Linked DNA regions of Homo sapiens: region 2 is linked to region 1. The links come from fine-mapping of genetic effects on gene expression. Tissue or cell type: whole blood. Region 1 holds a variant in brackets; the other region holds the start of a gene. All regions are shown on one strand. Distances are between the middles of the regions.

What was found. PIP is the estimated chance that this variant, and not a neighbour inherited with it, causes the effect.
Region 2: IL7R starts here. The variant in region 1 is fine-mapped to the expression of IL7R in whole blood (TOPMed, PIP above 0.99).

What each region holds. Positions count from the first base shown.
Region 1 is chr5:35,807,861-35,816,070 of GRCh38, forward strand. It overlaps SPEF2 (sperm flagellar 2), which reads left to right. Exons shown (of 37, transcript NM_024867.4): 37 at 6,604-6,751. The coding sequence ends at 6,693. Among named protein-coding and RNA genes, the nearest start is that of IL7R, 45 kb to the right of the region's middle. The variant C/T (reference allele first, on the strand shown) is at 3,320.
Region 2 is chr5:35,852,960-35,861,139 of GRCh38, forward strand. It overlaps IL7R (interleukin 7 receptor), which reads left to right and starts at 3,932. Exons shown (of 8, transcript NM_002185.5): 1 at 3,932-4,100; 2 at 7,893-8,031. The coding sequence starts at 4,019. RefSeq lists an enhancer at 7,734-8,180.

The sequences.
Region 1 (8,210 bases):
CCTTTAACAGCAGGGACTAAGGAGGGCAGAGGCTGACACCAACCCCCTTTCATACTGTAGCACTACATCCCTCTCAGATACCAGTTTAACACGAAGTCTCCCTGTTTGACTCCTGTGAGTTGTGTATTGAACTACAAAGTGTTTGCTGAGTTGAAAATAAAAGCGCTTTCACTTTGATAGAATGTAGATTGTGTATCTTGACTTCTCAATGATAGCAAGTTACATTTTGCAGTTTTCTTCCTATACCCACAAATGAAACTATTCAGACTTAAATATCTTCCTGTGTGCCTAAACGTTTTTGTTCTAAGTTGCTGATCCTTTTAAATATTAAATTATTAATTAATATTAAAATTAATTTTATTGCCTGTATTAGTATAACTGAAGTTGATTTCTTTTTTTTTAATTATACTTTAAGTTCTAGGGCACATGTGCACAACGTGCAGGTTTGTTACATATGTATACATGTGCCATGTTGGTGTGCTGTACCCATTAACTCGTCATTTACATTAGGTATATCTCCTAATGCTATCCCTCTCCCCTTCCCCCACCCCATGACAGGCCCCAGTGTATGATGTTCACCTTCTTGTGTCCAAGGGTTCTCATTGTTCAATTCCCACCTATGAGTGAGAACATGCGGTATTTGGTTTTCTGTCCTTGCGATAGTTTGCTGAGAATGATGGTTTCCAGCTTCATCCATGTCCCTATGAAGGACATGAAGTCATCCTTTTATATGGCTGCATAGTATTCCGTGGTGTATATGTGCCACATTTTCTTAATCCAGTGTATATATCATAGATGGACATTTGGGTTGGTTCCAAGTCTTTGCTATTGGGTTTTACATATATATACACACACATATATATTTATATGTATATATATACACACATATATATTTATATGTATATATATACACACATATATATGTATATATGTATATATGTAAAACCCAATATATATACATATATGTATGTAACATATACATATATTTTTTAAATATATATGTAAAAAAATTGGGTTTTACATATATATATATATATATAAAACAAGCTAGCAGCTGTTTAGACACGAAGCCTATGCAGTAGTGAAATATGATTACAGCATGTAAGAACACAGGCTCTGGAATCAGGTCATGGGACTGAATCTCAGGTCTACCCCTCAGTAACTCCCTGACCTTAACTTTCTCCTAATCCTGGCTTTCTCGTCTGTTAAATGGGGATGAAACATTCATATTCAAAGGGTGGTGGTGAGGATTAAGTGAGGTCATGCATGTAAAGCACTTGGCATGGTATCTGACACAGGGGAAGTGCTACAGAAATGATGGCTGTTAGGGGTACTATTCAATACTGATCACCTACTACTGAGACCCGTAGTATAAGCTTCCATAGGAGAGAGAAAATTGAGTACATAATTTGGTCACTGCTCTAAAAAAATTTAACTCCTTTTTGCAAGATAATTTTTACATGCAGGAATTGCAAGAAAGTGATATAAGTTAAACCAACCAAGTGCAAAATTATAGGAATTCAATACTTGACATTTTTGTGCTGGAAGTGTGGAGGGAGTCTGCCCAAGAAGGAATAAGCTAGGTCTTGAACGATAGCCAGGGTTTGGGAAAGTGGAGAGAGGGAAAGGGACGTCTACATGGATTTTGCTGTTGGGGTAGGGAGGCAGCAGAGTCCTGGGTGAAGGCAAGGTCTGGGGAAGGCATGGAAGAAGGACTGCAGGAGCCCCACCCCATGAATAGCCTGGGAAAGGTATAAAATGATCCCATTAAATTGGTCAGATCAGGCCAGATTGCGAAGAACCCAGATGTCACAAAGGGAAATGTGGATTCCATTTGAAAAGCAAGAGAGAATGAACAGGCTGCTGAGCAGAGCATGATATGATGTTAATTTCTTCATCCCTAAGCATTCCTTGGGGATATTGTGCCATAATGTCATCCTGCACAACGTGGATTCCATAGGCCCATCTCTCTAGACTGCATTTTAGCTTACATTCCCTGCTCCACATATCAGGGAACAGCTCTCTTACATTGAACCAGTAAAATAATTTGCAAAATCCTTTGGAATTATGTAAAATAGGACTTATTTTATATTGCTGATTACAAGTAGGAGCATAAAAATGATGCCACAATTATTTCCTCTCATACTGGAAAGAAAACTCCCACAAAATCAGTATGACTTGAAAATATCTTCACTCTGAGCAGAGTGATTAAATATGATGAACTTGCAAAGAAGATTCTATTTGACAATTTGCTTGAGAAAAGAAAATAGCCAACAGATGGCTACCTTCAAGAGTTAGCCTTTCCGAATAGGTGTTCTGACTTCCCAGGAAACCTGTCATCCATAAGACTCCCCCACTTTATTTTTTTGAGACAGAGTTTTGCTCTTGTTGCCCAGGCTGGAGTGCAGTGGCATGATCTGGGCTCACTGCAACCTCCACCTCCTGGGTTCACACGATTCTCCTGCCTCAGCCTCCTGAGTAGCTGGGATGACAGGTGCCTGCCACCACGCCCAGCTAATTTTTTGTATTTTTAGTAGAGATGGGGCTTCACTATGTTGGCCAGGCTGGTCTCGAACTCCTGACCTCAGGCGATCCACCCGCCTCAGCCTCCCAAAGTGCTGGAGGACTCCTTTTAAGTTATACATTCCCCTCATTTCTGAAGGAGTGTCAGCAACTAGCAATGTTAACTGAAGTACTATTGGCATTTGGAGCAGCACAGTTCCTCTTTGAGGATAACTGTCCCAAGTGTGGCAGAATACCTAACATTTCAGGCCCTACCCCCTGTATTCCAGGAACATCCTGACATACTGATCTCCAAAACCACCTCTGCCTGCACATTTGCCAAGCTTTCCTTGATGCACAGTACCCCTCTGGCTGAAAGCCACCCAGCAGCAGGGTGTCTGTCTTCTGTTAACCAGTCTCACAATACCTGTAGCACCTGGCATTCTCATAGCAGAGAGTTAGTTAGTGAGTTAGTTCATTGCCAGAATGCTTCTCTAAGATATACCTGAGTCATCTACTTTAACTCTCCCTCCTCAAGTCCTCCACACCTCTTCCTGGTCACTCCACCAAGGAATCTAATTAGAGGCCAGTAAACTACCACCCAGGGGACTCATTTGTATGATGGTCCATCAAGAAGAGTTGTGCCTGTGTCCTGAAAAGTCTACATTCTAATATTTACAGTGAAAAAGGGTCCCTTTCCAGTAAGGTGTTCTATTCTCATTTTTGCTAAAAAAAAAAATAATAAATAATAAAATAAAAACAAAAGAAATGAAGGAATGGAGAGAAAAGAATCTTTGAAGACTCAAACCACTGCACT[C/T]GTCCTGTCATTTTTTGCTTCAGATATCCATGTACAAGTAAATAGATCACATTTTTATAATACACTTCAACCACAGTGATGTCATCTGAAGATCTTTCAAGATAAGAAGAGCAAAAGCTAGAGTGTGGTTTTTCAGGTTAAAATGTTGTTTGCTATTATAAACAGTGGGAAGTGAAGGTTGTTGCCTAACAGCTCTATGTTTACAAGGTTCTTGTTTAGAAGTGACAACATTTTAAGATACATATTTGAAAAAAATAAGTATGCATAATTGTAATAATGCATTTAAGGTGTACTGGCTTTTGGTTATGAGAGTGGGCTCTGGAGCTGCACTGACTGGGTTCATACCTATGAAGTGTGTGGCCTTCGGCAAGTGACCTCAAAGTGCCTTGGTGTCTGCATCTGTAAAATAGGGCCAATGATCATAGTCACCTCATGGTGGGGGGGGTGGGGTTTGTACAAATTAAAGGAGATAATACATATAAAGTGTTTAACTCAGTTCCTGGAAGATAGAAAGCACTCAATATATATGAGATACTACTACTACTACTATTAGGTTCGTGCAAAAGTAGTTGCAGTTTTTGCCATTACTTTTTTTTTTTTTTTTTTTTGAGACAGAGTCTCGCTCTGTTGCTCAGGCTGGAGGGTTGGATTGCTGGATTCAGTGGTGCAATCTTGGCTCACTGCAAGCTGCACCTCCCGGGTTCACGCCATTCTCCTGCCTCAGCCTCCCGAGTAGCTGGGACTACAGGTGCCTGCCACCACGCCCGACTAATTTCTCCATATTTTTTTTATTAGAGATGGGTTTTCAATGTGTTAGCCAGGATGGTCTCGATCCCCTGATCTCGTGATCCGCCCACCTTGGCCTCCCAAAGTGCTGGGATTACAGGCATGAGCCACCGCACCTGGCCTCCCATTACTTTTGATGGCAAAGAACCACAATTACTTTTGCACCAACCTACTTCTACTACTGCTGGTCTGTAGTAGTTACCGTGCACAAGAAATTCTGAATCACGTGCAATTATATGTGGATGGACTAGTGAGCTGGCATCTAATCTCTTGAACACATATGTCTTGTCTTTGGAAAAAAAGAAGGACTTTACTGGTGCAGTGCCATGATGATAAAGGGTCCAAATTGAAGTCCCAGGAAGCCTCTGGTCCATACCTATGTGGAAGTTCCAGATTTTGCGTTGGACATTATAGGCATTCAGCTAAAGTCACTTATTTAATTTCCACTTTCATAGGCCTTGTACAAAAAAGTTATTTTCAAATAATGCTCCTAAATTATTAAGAAAATGATTTGTATAAATATAAGAAGATCAGTGAGGATATTGGAACTGGGTTGTTGGTGAACAAAGTCAATTTCCTGTGATAAATATATATTTATAAATGTAAATGAATAAACAATTTTCTCTAAAAACTTAATAACTTTAGTTTCTTGTGATGAACGCAGGCTCAATTATTATACATTCTTTAAAACAAATATGTAAATCAAGCATATTACCTTATAATTGAGGTTTATATTCAATAGGAGATAGCAAGAAATCTTTTAATGTTAACATTAGAATATCACCAGAAAATATCTTATAAACAAATGAATCAGGACCCAATTACATTAGGATAACATACCTATAATTATAAGTGCGAACTGAAGGAGACTTTCATCCCTCTTGTCTTCAGGGCACCTGACTTTAAAATATTCTCTAAGCTTCTCCTTTATCTTTATAACAAAATATGATAGCTGCTTCAGTGCTTTGTGTTTTCAAAGCACCAGTGTCAAACATTTTCTGGCTTTCACAGGCTCTTCTCCATTCACTGCTACTGAAAATTGTGGTCCCTGATTTCAGCTATAAATTTAGCTAAGACTGGTTTAAATATATCTGGAGCTTATCATTTTCCCCTTGCTATGGAGTGTCAGATAATCACAAGTTAGCTTATTCCTTAATCCTCAAATTAACTTTTGATAATATTAAAATGACATTAGTTATTATAAACATACTATATAAAGAAGACATGTTATTAGGAATTGTAGTGGGCTGGGCACAGTGGTTGCCATCTGTAATCCCAGCACTTTGGGAGGCTGAGGTGGGAGGATTGCTTGAGGCCAGGTGTTTGAGAGAAACCTGGTCAACAGAGCAAGACTCCTCTCTATAAAAAATTTTAAAATTAGCTGGACATGGTGACATGTGCCTGTAGTCCCAGCTACTTAGAAAACTGAGGTGGGAGGATTTCTTGAGCCTTGGAGATTGAGGCTGCAGTGAGCTATGGTCATGCCACAGCACTGCAGCCTGGGTGACAGAGCGAAACTCTATTTCTAAAAAAAATAAATAATAAATGGAAGAATTATACTGGGTAAGACTAGAAAAGTCAATGGGGAGCAGCTTTTCTTTTCCACTTGGTTCACTTAGCATTGACCTTTGGCTTTAGGAGATTTGTGTTTTCAAGGAACAAGATCTCTAAAGAAAATGATTCACTATGATTCCTCGCAGTGACTGATAGAAGCAGTGCATATGTCAATTGGCAAGGGTCAGCACATATGGTGAACAAACTCATGTCTTCTCAACTAAAATGATCACAGTCAAATTGAAGCCTTTGAAACTCAGCTCTGAGGAAAAGGAACTTATATTGTTAAAATACTTCTCTAAAATTGTGAAATAAAAAAAAAAACCTAAAAGCTACCTAAATGCAGTTCTGTATTTTTCACATGTTGGTACTCCTTCTACATTGTAATAATAGTTTAAATATATTTTGAAAAATATCTGTGATTTAAGATGTAAGATAGCTGTATAGCAAATGTAAAACAGGTCATTCTTTCCCTGATGTTTTTACAATGAAAGAATGAGACAATTTCAGGAAAGTAATCTTTTGTTTTAAAATTCTACAAATCTATAGACATGATTAATTTAGCATTAGCATTTACTTTCATAGAGGGTGAATACTGGTTTTTTTGTTCATTCATAAGGAAACAATCTTTTAACTTGCCCATTCATTATATGCCAGGTTCTGTGTAACTGCTTTTACAAATGTTAATTAACCTAATATGACAACTCCATTATTAGGTGTGGAAACTGAGGGTCCAAGATCTTAGATAATTTTCCAAACATACAAGTAGTAAGTCTCAGGGTGGGATTAAAACTAAATGGAGAAATTTGCTCAGTGGAAAAAAAGAAATAAAAACTGTTTAATGGTTGCCATGTACTATGTGATCATTTATTAGTATTTGTATAGTATAGTATTGATCATCCTTTATTAGTATTTGTAACTTCTCTTTGAATCTTTTGTCTTAGGATATTAAAATAATTCTCCAAAGGAGTGAACATGTACAAGGAAGTGATGGAGAGAGATCACCTTCAAGACATACAGAGGAAAAGAAATGAAGACAAAAGAGTGTGATTTTTTTAATTCTGCAATAAATCTTCCAAAAATTAAATGTGACCATGGTGTTTGTCATATATGTTACCATTTTAAGTATAGAAATGAACCCTACCAGTTCATTATCGGCATTGAAAATGGAACCTTCCTTAACTTGGAGAATATTTCATAATAAAGAGAGAAAAAAATCCAAAGTAAAAATCCAAAGTAAGCAGGAATGCATTTTGAAGTGATTCTGAAAATGGAAGGCCCCAAAACAAGATGTTCAAAAATAAGTCATGAAAACTCCCTATGAAAGGTATCTACATTAGGCAGATATAGTGAAAATTTCCCCAAAACTCCACATCAGCACAGTGCTTCTAGGTACATCTTACAGTTCTTTCTCCATATGCAGTAAAATTTCCAGGTTTATTTCAATAGCCAAGAAGAAGGCTGCATTATTGAACTGCTAGTAAAGCTTTGTTCCCATCATCTATTCATAATTATTTCTTAATAGAATATATTTCCTTCATAGATAGATGTACAATTTCATCTTTTCGCTTGATAAGTTGGTGACTCAAATTCAATGACACTTATCAATAAACTGTTTCAAGAATGGTGATGTATTCTTGGTGGCTGGGCTGCTTCTATGATAACCCCTGTGGGTCTCCTCATTGGCTGAATCCTCCTCTTCTGCTCAACCTCTGAGTTAGGAGGGCCCCAGGAATCAGCCTTCTCCATCTGCAGTCAAGCTCTGGATGATTCATCGATTTCCATGACTTCATGGGTATTACAGAGGCTCCCAACACTGAAATTTCTATTCCCACCTTCGTCCAAAATCCAAACTTCTCTGTCTTAATGGCCCCGCATTTTCCACATGGATGGCTAATAGTCATCTCAAACTCAGCGTGTCCGAGGTGAATTTCTGATTTTCCTCTTCCGCAAACCTGCTCCTCTAAGTCCTCCTTCACTTTAGGCAACTGTGTCCTCCTGCTGTTCAGACCAGAGAACTTGAAGTCATCCTTGAGTTGCCTCTTTCTCTCATATCCCACCTCCAGCCTATCAGCACATCAAGTAGGATAGACCCTGAAAATGCATCTAGAATGTGATCTTCTTTACTCCTTTGTCGCAGGAAGTCTGGTCCAAGCCTTTGCCATCTCTTGCCTGGATTACTGCAGTATCCGGGTAACCAGTGATCCTGTTTCTGTTCTTGCTCGCCCTACAGGCTGTTTTTAAGCACAGCAGCCAGAGGGAGCCTTTTATAATGCGAGTCAGGCCATGTCACACTTCTGCTCCAACCCTCTATGTCCTATGTCACCCAGAATCCAGCCCAAGTCCCATCTTGATCTTACCCTCCCTGCCTCTTTGACCCCATCTACTGTTCTCCCCTTTCTCACTGCTTAAGTGACAAAACTACCTTGCACATCTTAGAACCCACCGGGTACACTCCTGCCGCAGGGCCTTTGTGCTTGCTATTCTCTCTGCTTAGAATGATTTTCCTCCCACATCTCTGCATTATTTGTCCCACAAATTCCTCCGGGTC
Region 2 (8,180 bases), 45 kb after region 1:
GCAGGTCATACAGATTTTATGACACATAGAATGTGTTTTCAGTATTTTTCAAACATCAGATTTTACCCAGGATATTACTGTTGCAACATTTACTGCCTGTTATTATTGCTGTTTCACTTATTGTCCTTCAATATATAGTCCCAAGGTGAGTGACTTTTAAATCATCCTCATTTAGGACAAATTGCTAAAGGCTTAAGGACTATTTTATAAGCTTCATCTAAAAACTGAGTCAGAGGAATGCTTTTGTCCTTGAAACAGTTTGTTTCCCAGGGTTCTCATGATACACTGGTATCTGTCCAACTAAATTCATAATTTCTGTAGAGAATAGAGTCAAAATTTCTGTTCCTAATAGATGGATCCAGATAGTAAACACTAGTAATAAGACAAGATGCTCAGCCTGAATTTTCCCAGGAAAACCTTTGTCTTTACTAATCAGAAAAAAAAAAAAAAAAGGAAGATCTGGGCTAGATTTTTATCCAGTTAACAAACAACAAACAACCAAATAATGGATACACCCCTCTAACATTTTAGGATCTCAATCTCGTTAAAAGATAAGTTCTCTTAACTTGCTAGGACTCTACCGGTTATATAGGAACACCACAGAACTTATTGCAATCTGAAGATAAAAGAAAGTCTTTTTTGTGTTTTGCCTGTTGGGCAAATAGCCTGAACAATTACAAAAAAGGAAGAAAAGGAGACTTGGCCAACTGGTGTCAGGAGTCTTAACAAGGTCAGTGTGTTCTGCTTGTGTATGAGAAAGAATCAAATGGCTTTTTTTTTTTTTTTTTTTTTTTTTGAGGCAGACTGTCACTCTGTCACCCAGGCTACAGTGGAGTGGTGCAATCTCAGTTCACTGCGCAATCTCGGTTCACTGCAGCCCTGAGTAGCCAAGACTACAGGCGGGCCCCACCACACCTGACTAAGTTTTCTATTTTCTGCAGAGACAGAGTCTCACTATGTTTACTAGGGCTGGTCTTGAACTCCTGAGCTCAAGTGATCTGCCCACCTCAGCTTCCCAAGGTGTTGGGATTACAGGCATGAGCCACTGCACCCAGCTGGCTTTCCTTTTTAATGATTCACTACATCATACAAACTCATCAAACTGAAGGAAGACAAAGTACAAAAGAGAGACGAGAAAATGTAGCCATGAAAGGAAGTGATGGGTGAAGAGGAGGAGAAGAAATATGGCCAAGTCAGTTGCCACGCCAAACTGCTTGCTTCTACCACAGTCCAATGCTTCCCTCCTGATTTCACATTTGGAGACTTGAGTGTCCCCAAATAGTGTTCCTCATCCTCTTTTCTTCTTTCTGTGCTTGTCTCACAAAAGTAATGACAAAGTAATATAGTAAATGTTTGTTACCTGGGGGATAGGGTGAACTAGGTGGTTCTTCCTCAGCTTTTCTAAGTCTCCAAAGGACTAACAAGACCTGAGTGAGGAAAGAGAGAAGGCACTGTTGTTCCCCCACAATCTCTAGAAGGACTGGTGACGCATGTCATTTTTCTTTGAGCTCCCCACACTTTAGGCTTCTCTCTGAGGTCTTTTCAGCATCTCCTGCCCCACCCAAGAGTAAGCACCCCTGTGGAAATCCCCAGAACAAACCAGCACATGCTGTACCAAAATATTGTGTCTTGGCTTTGTTCTTTTACATCTTCACAACTAAAGGAAAGAGATACAATCAAAATGATAGTCCACTTAAATGATAAACAAGAGAATTTAAAGAGACATAACCCAGTTACTCACCCATGAAGTGACAATCTGTTAGCAGTTTAGGAGATTTGCATTGGTAGATAGATATAATTTGGGATTTCTCCTTGAACATTAGCTTAATTCATGGGAATCTGTAATTATAGCTTTCTTGAAAGGGTATTTAGCTCAGTGTACAAAACATACCAATTTTTGTGAATCAGGCTTACAATTTTCTAACCAAGCTTTCAAAACAAGATTAGAAATGAGGGCATAAATTATTATCGATGCACAAAATTGTCACTCTTTATTTGGCTTGGAAGGGTTTTGAAATGCCCAGAGAAGGCCCTGACAAATGGAGAAGATGGAATATGTCCCCTTCAGTTGGATTCTTGCTCCGAAGTATTCCTTGAGCCTATACTCCAAAGTGTGGCATTATAACTGGTGCAGACGGAGTCTGTCTTAAAACTGAAAAGGAGGATCCAGAGACTGGTACAAATGTCCCACCTCCTTTTTTTGTTACTTCGTTATTGTCAAATAATTGTAATGATGGGACAAGCTAAATCATGAGTCTTTTAAAGTCTCTTCGATTTGCTTTACACCTGGGGGGTTGTTGCTTGTCTCTGCTAATTTTAGCCATTTCACAGGCCCATGGGAGCAATTCTACCTAATGACAGTGAATCCAACAGAAGTTCATAACTCACTGATCACTTAGTTTCTCTGCACTCCTCACCTTATAACTGCAGTCTTGTGGCATTTTTCCAAAAGAGAGCCACTGTGAATCAAGCATAGAGTTTTATGGCCTGAATCCAGGTTAGATTATTTTTTTCAAGAAAAAGAAAAAAAAATCTAACAGTTACCAAGAAGCAGTCAGGCTTTACAAATATCACCACTTTAACCATGAGGCCATATTAGGAAGGCTTTTGACTGGCATTCAGGTTTGGGGGAGTCTGAATTTTCTATGCCATGGTCTCAGATTTCTGCCCCATATACCTAGGCACTAATTTAGTTCATATGTACTATGTGTACCTGAAAAGTTGTGTGGCAATCAAATTTTCACAAATAGAATCCTGTTTTAAATACACTAAGAAAGTACCTACTTTATCCTTTAAACAAGAGGTCAGCAGACTTTTTCTACAAAGGGTCAGATAGTAAAGATTTTACACCTTTTGTACAATACAATCTCTATCTCATCTACTTAGCTCTGCCATTGTTGCATAAAAGCAGCTGTAGATGATACACAAATGGGTGAGGCTGTATTCCAATGAAACGTTATTTGCAAAAACAGGTGGTAGATTAAATTTGGTCCCAAGGCTTACTTGGGAAAAAAAAAGATCTTTTGAAAAAGAAAAAATAAATGAATAATTTTTTAAAAAATTGTTCCCTAGGTCATAGTTTGCCAGCCCCTGCCCTAAACAAATAATTCTTGAATGCCTACTGTGGTGTGTAAGATATGAGTAAATACCAGGGATACACAGAGAACAAAAGAGAAAAACTGCTATTCTTGTGAAACTTGGAAGTTGGAGGTAAGCTATTTAAAATAAACCCACAATAAAGTACTTCACATAGTGCAGACTGTTTCTTTAAATCAAAACTCACTCCAAACAACCAATTGATTCACTTTGTAAGTTTGAATTTTTGTCTTCAGATTCTTTTAAAGTGGGCCCTTAGTCAGGAGCGGTGGCTCATGCCTGTAGTCCTAGCACTTTGGGAGGCTGAGGCAGGCAGATCACTTGAGGTCAGGAGTTCGAGACAAGCCTGGCCAACATGGCGAAACCCCGTCTCCACTGAAAACACAAAAATTAGGCTGGCATAGTGGCATTTGCCTGTAGTCCTAGCTACTCAGGAGGCTGAGGCAGGAGAATTGCTTGAACCTGGGAGGTGGAAATTGCAGTGAGCCGAGATCATGCTATTGTACTCCAGCCTGGGCAACAAAGCAAGACTCTGTCTCAAAAAAATAAAAATTAAAAAAATAAAGTAGCCTCTAGCCTAAGATAGCTTGAGCCTAGGTGTGAATCTACTGCCTTACTCTGATGTAAGCACAGTAAGTGTGGGGGCTGCAGGGAATATCCAGGAGGAACAATAATTTCAGAGGCTCTGTCTCTTCATGTCCTTGACCTCTGCTTACAGCAGCAATACTTTTACTCAGACTTCCTGTTTCTGGAACTTGCCTTCTTTTTTGCTGTGTTTATACTTCCCTTGTCTGTGGTTAGATAAGTATAAAGCCCTAGATCTAAGCTTCTCTGTCTTCCTCCCTCCCTCCCTTCCTCTTACTCTCATTCATTTCATACACACTGGCTCACACATCTACTCTCTCTCTCTATCTCTCTCAGAATGACAATTCTAGGTACAACTTTTGGCATGGTTTTTTCTTTACTTCAAGTCGTTTCTGGAGAAAGTGGCTATGCTCAAAATGGTGAGTCATTTCTAAGTTTTCTTATGGATTTTGGATTATCTGTAGCATGGTTTCAGGTTATTCAGTTCCCTAACAGACCTGAGTCAGGCACTGGGTTTGAATGCAGTTTGAGAATTTCCCACATATTCAGTCATTTTTTTTAATGTTTAACCACCATGACAGGGGGCAGGGGATCAATACTATGGGTGGTTTATAAGACCTCAGTATTCTCAAGAAGGAATGCATTTCACTCCCAAGTGTAGATCTTAAATGTTGAATGATTACTCTGCTCTTACAAAAAGAATGCTCATGTAGATGCTATGACTGTACTTGTAGGAAAATGTCCAAAGTAATTTTACCTTGTCAGGAGATCAAACTGGATTCATTTTGTTTGACTTTTTAAGAAATCCTGAAAGCATAACTTTCAGGATAAGGTAATGTACAGAAGCAATAGCTTTGTCTTCAGTGACCAGTGCTATATCCTCAGCACCTAAATCAGTGGCTAGAATATAGTAGACATCCAATAACTTTTGAAAGTGTTTTCAAAATACTTTAGTTTTGAGAGATTTATGTGAGATTTTAAGTAAATAACTGACTAGAGAAAGATCTAAATGAGTTTACTCATTGAAATACACTGAATTGCCTCCACACCAACAAATTGGCCATATGTAATAATTCTTTTTGGGATCTAAAAAACTTAGTACCGAGAAGCCAACCCTGCCCATACATAAACACATTGTAATTATAACAAAACTAGGCAGAAGCTTCTAACAGCAGCAGGAGGCATGTGGGAATTTAGACCATCAACTTGCTCCTGCAAATTAAGCCCTTTCTCTTTAAGAGTTAAAAACTATTTGGCTATAGACAATATCAAACACATCAGCCTAATGACTCAGCTTATGCATTTTGAGTCATGTAATTACGAAGGATGGAAATCCCTAGAATTTTCTCATTAAGGGAATTGTCAGAGAGTTTGACATTTTTTACAGTATATGACTCACTTTATGGGGGATGATTATTATTCTATGCTAAACTTTGCCTTGGATTTCCACAAAGACTGATGGGAGGCAGGAAACATAAATCTTACTCTCTTTCATGTCATCTATACTCACTAGTTCACCCTGGTGATCATACTATTTTTAAAATATATAAGAATGCTAGTTGAAAGCTGGGTTTTCACTCCAACTTTTTAAGTTTCAGATTTTTTAGAAGATGTATAATTACCCTATTCACATGATTACGTCAAAATACTTCCCAGTTTGGGGTATAGGAATTCACATTCAGTTGCTGCTTGTTGAAAGTTGTCAATTTTCTGATCATCACAAGGATGATCAAGAGAAGAAAGGGATACTTTTTAAAAATCCAAATCATTTACACTATTAATCAACTAACTCCATTCAGTAGGAAGAAGACTTCTAGATGACACTGGCTTGCCTATGATACATATTCCACACAATTTAAATTTTTATGGATAAATATGTCTAGATACCTATTTAAATATGAATAATATTAATTATTGAGCATTTAAAGAATAATAGATTAACTCATTATTCAAAAGCTCTATGTAATTTCAAAACCATAGTAATTATAACACCGTCAATTGACATAAACTTTTTAAAGAGAAGCTCAAATGTTTCATGTATATTTTCAGAATTAGAATTCTTATTTTACCTTTTCATTACTTATTTCTCAGAAAATATTATACTCATAGCTAATCCCTATTAAATCCTTACTGTGTTCTAAGCTACCTCTTTGTAAATATCCATTCAGTGATTGCTCATAGCACGAGTTTACATATTAGAACACATGTCTTAGAGAAGTTGCCTACCTGACAGAGGACCACAGGTAGAGTATCCAGAATTTAAACGCACATCTGTCCAGCTCTAACACCACAGGTCTTAACCACTGTGTACATTAACTACTCTTAGCCAAGAATTTTTCAGCTCACGTCATGTAGAATATTCTTTTTGTAAAATGCCATCACATTTTATAAGTCATTGAAGGGAATTTTTCTTGGTTACAAAGCAACTCTGCCCCATAATATCTACTGAAAAGCCAGTGAGCTGCTTCCTAAAACACAGCCATTTTAGGTGCAGGAAACAGTGTATAAATGGCTCATTGTATATTGTATGCTTTGCCAGACTGAGTGGCAGTGGGAGTCCTTTGTTATGTGGGTGCTGACATCTGCTAGAGTGTGCTGTCTCTATTGAAGAATCGTGAAGACAAAGCCGACCCACAGGATGTCTGAATCCAAATAATAATACATGTTCTGTGTATAGAATTGGTGGAAGAGAAAATGTCAGGACAGTGTGAGGACTGCCATGTAAGGTCAGAACCACTGCATTTAGAAAGCTACCACTGCACAGGGAAGAAATCTAAGTCTACAAAATTAGTGGGCTGTCTCTCATTATTTCGTGCTGTCATCAGAAGGAGGGCCATACCCTGCTGAAACTACATAAAGAGCTTTTGCTGGTGGCAGAACTGTGAACTGGATGGATTCTGGGAATGGCCAGAAAAACAAATGCCTGTGGTTGTGAGCAGTGCCCACACCCATGGTCTAGCTAGGGCTGTTTGAGATTTGTTGCTTTGACTGAACCAACCTGTCATTCAACTGGTTGGTCCATTCACAGTCAGCTTTATTAACTTTCCCATTTTCCCTACTGAGTTATTTAAGTAAAGAAAGTGCTATTCGGACAGCCCTTGGTCTCTGGGACAATCAACTGGGATTTGATTTTAGTATATTCTGTCTCCAGTGTAAAGCCTTGGAAGCATCTAATTTCTAGTACTGATGAACCAAAAATACATGGAAGCAGTCCTAGGCTCACACTTGAGCACTCTGAGAATGGCTTTGCTTACTCCAGATTTTCTCAGGTCCCAGTGGGTGTATATTTTCTGACATATTTATTCCAGCCTCACTTTCTATCATGTAAAACATACATACAAAATGTAGATTTCATTATAGGGTCTACAAAACAGCTTAAGAAACCAAATACTATGTGTGACAGATCACACTTTCCAAAAGTAATAGCAAAAAAAAAAAAAATCTGGTTCCCCACTTTCTTCCAGCATCCTGCTAGAATCTATCAGATACTGCGTCTATAGAAGAATCTATAAGAACAGAAGCAGTATGTACAACATTCACAGGAAGTTTCACCAAATCGGAGTCCTGCCAGATCTAATTTTTTTTCCCTAATCACGTTTGTCTCAGTCAGTAGCTTAAGACAATGGAAATAATCAGTGCCACTTTTAATTGGGATGCCTTTTTAGGCAAGGGAAAGTGACCTCTTAAAAAAGCAAAATTCTGACTGCAAGATAGCTATCATTGTCCTTCATTTAAGACAAAAAAAATACTAGGGAGGGAATAAATTATGATTTGTAATAAAGTGAAAAGTGAGATTAGGTAGCATGGGGATAATGGAAATAAAGTGTCTCTTCTTTGAAATAATATGAACAATCAATGTAACAAATGTAGCAGAAAAAACTCCAGTTTAAATACAGAAAAGAATGTGTTCAATGCCTCTGGTTCTTTAACTCAGAAATATTTGGAGGTTACTTACTCATTATGATGGATTTTTTTTTTCTATTGGAAAACTCTGTTAGCATTGAGCGTTTTTGTTTTTTGTTTTTTGTTGGTTGGTTGGTTTTGAAGCATTTTTCTTGTCTTTGCCCTTGGGCTTTTCTTCCTTGAATACTACATAATCCATTACTATTTCATGTCTGCCACAGAGTCTGCTATTTTATTAAGGTCATGCCATATTTCAAAAGGATGCATTTATTTGTTTCATTAACAGCTGCATGTTTGTTCCTCCCCAGGAGACTTGGAAGATGCAGAACTGGATGACTACTCATTCTCATGCTATAGCCAGTTGGAAGTGAATGGATCGCAGCACTCACTGACCTGTGCTTTTGAGGACCCAGATGTCAACATCACCAATCTGGAATTTGAAATATGGTGAGGGATGGTGGTTTTAATGGTTGCTTAGACATCCTCTGTCTCTCTTTTCATATGCTCTTTTTAATAGCCACAAAAGAAAGAATATGTGGCCTAATTAACAAATGTTAACATCTAAGGAATTCCCAAAGGCCTCCTGAAACTCCTTG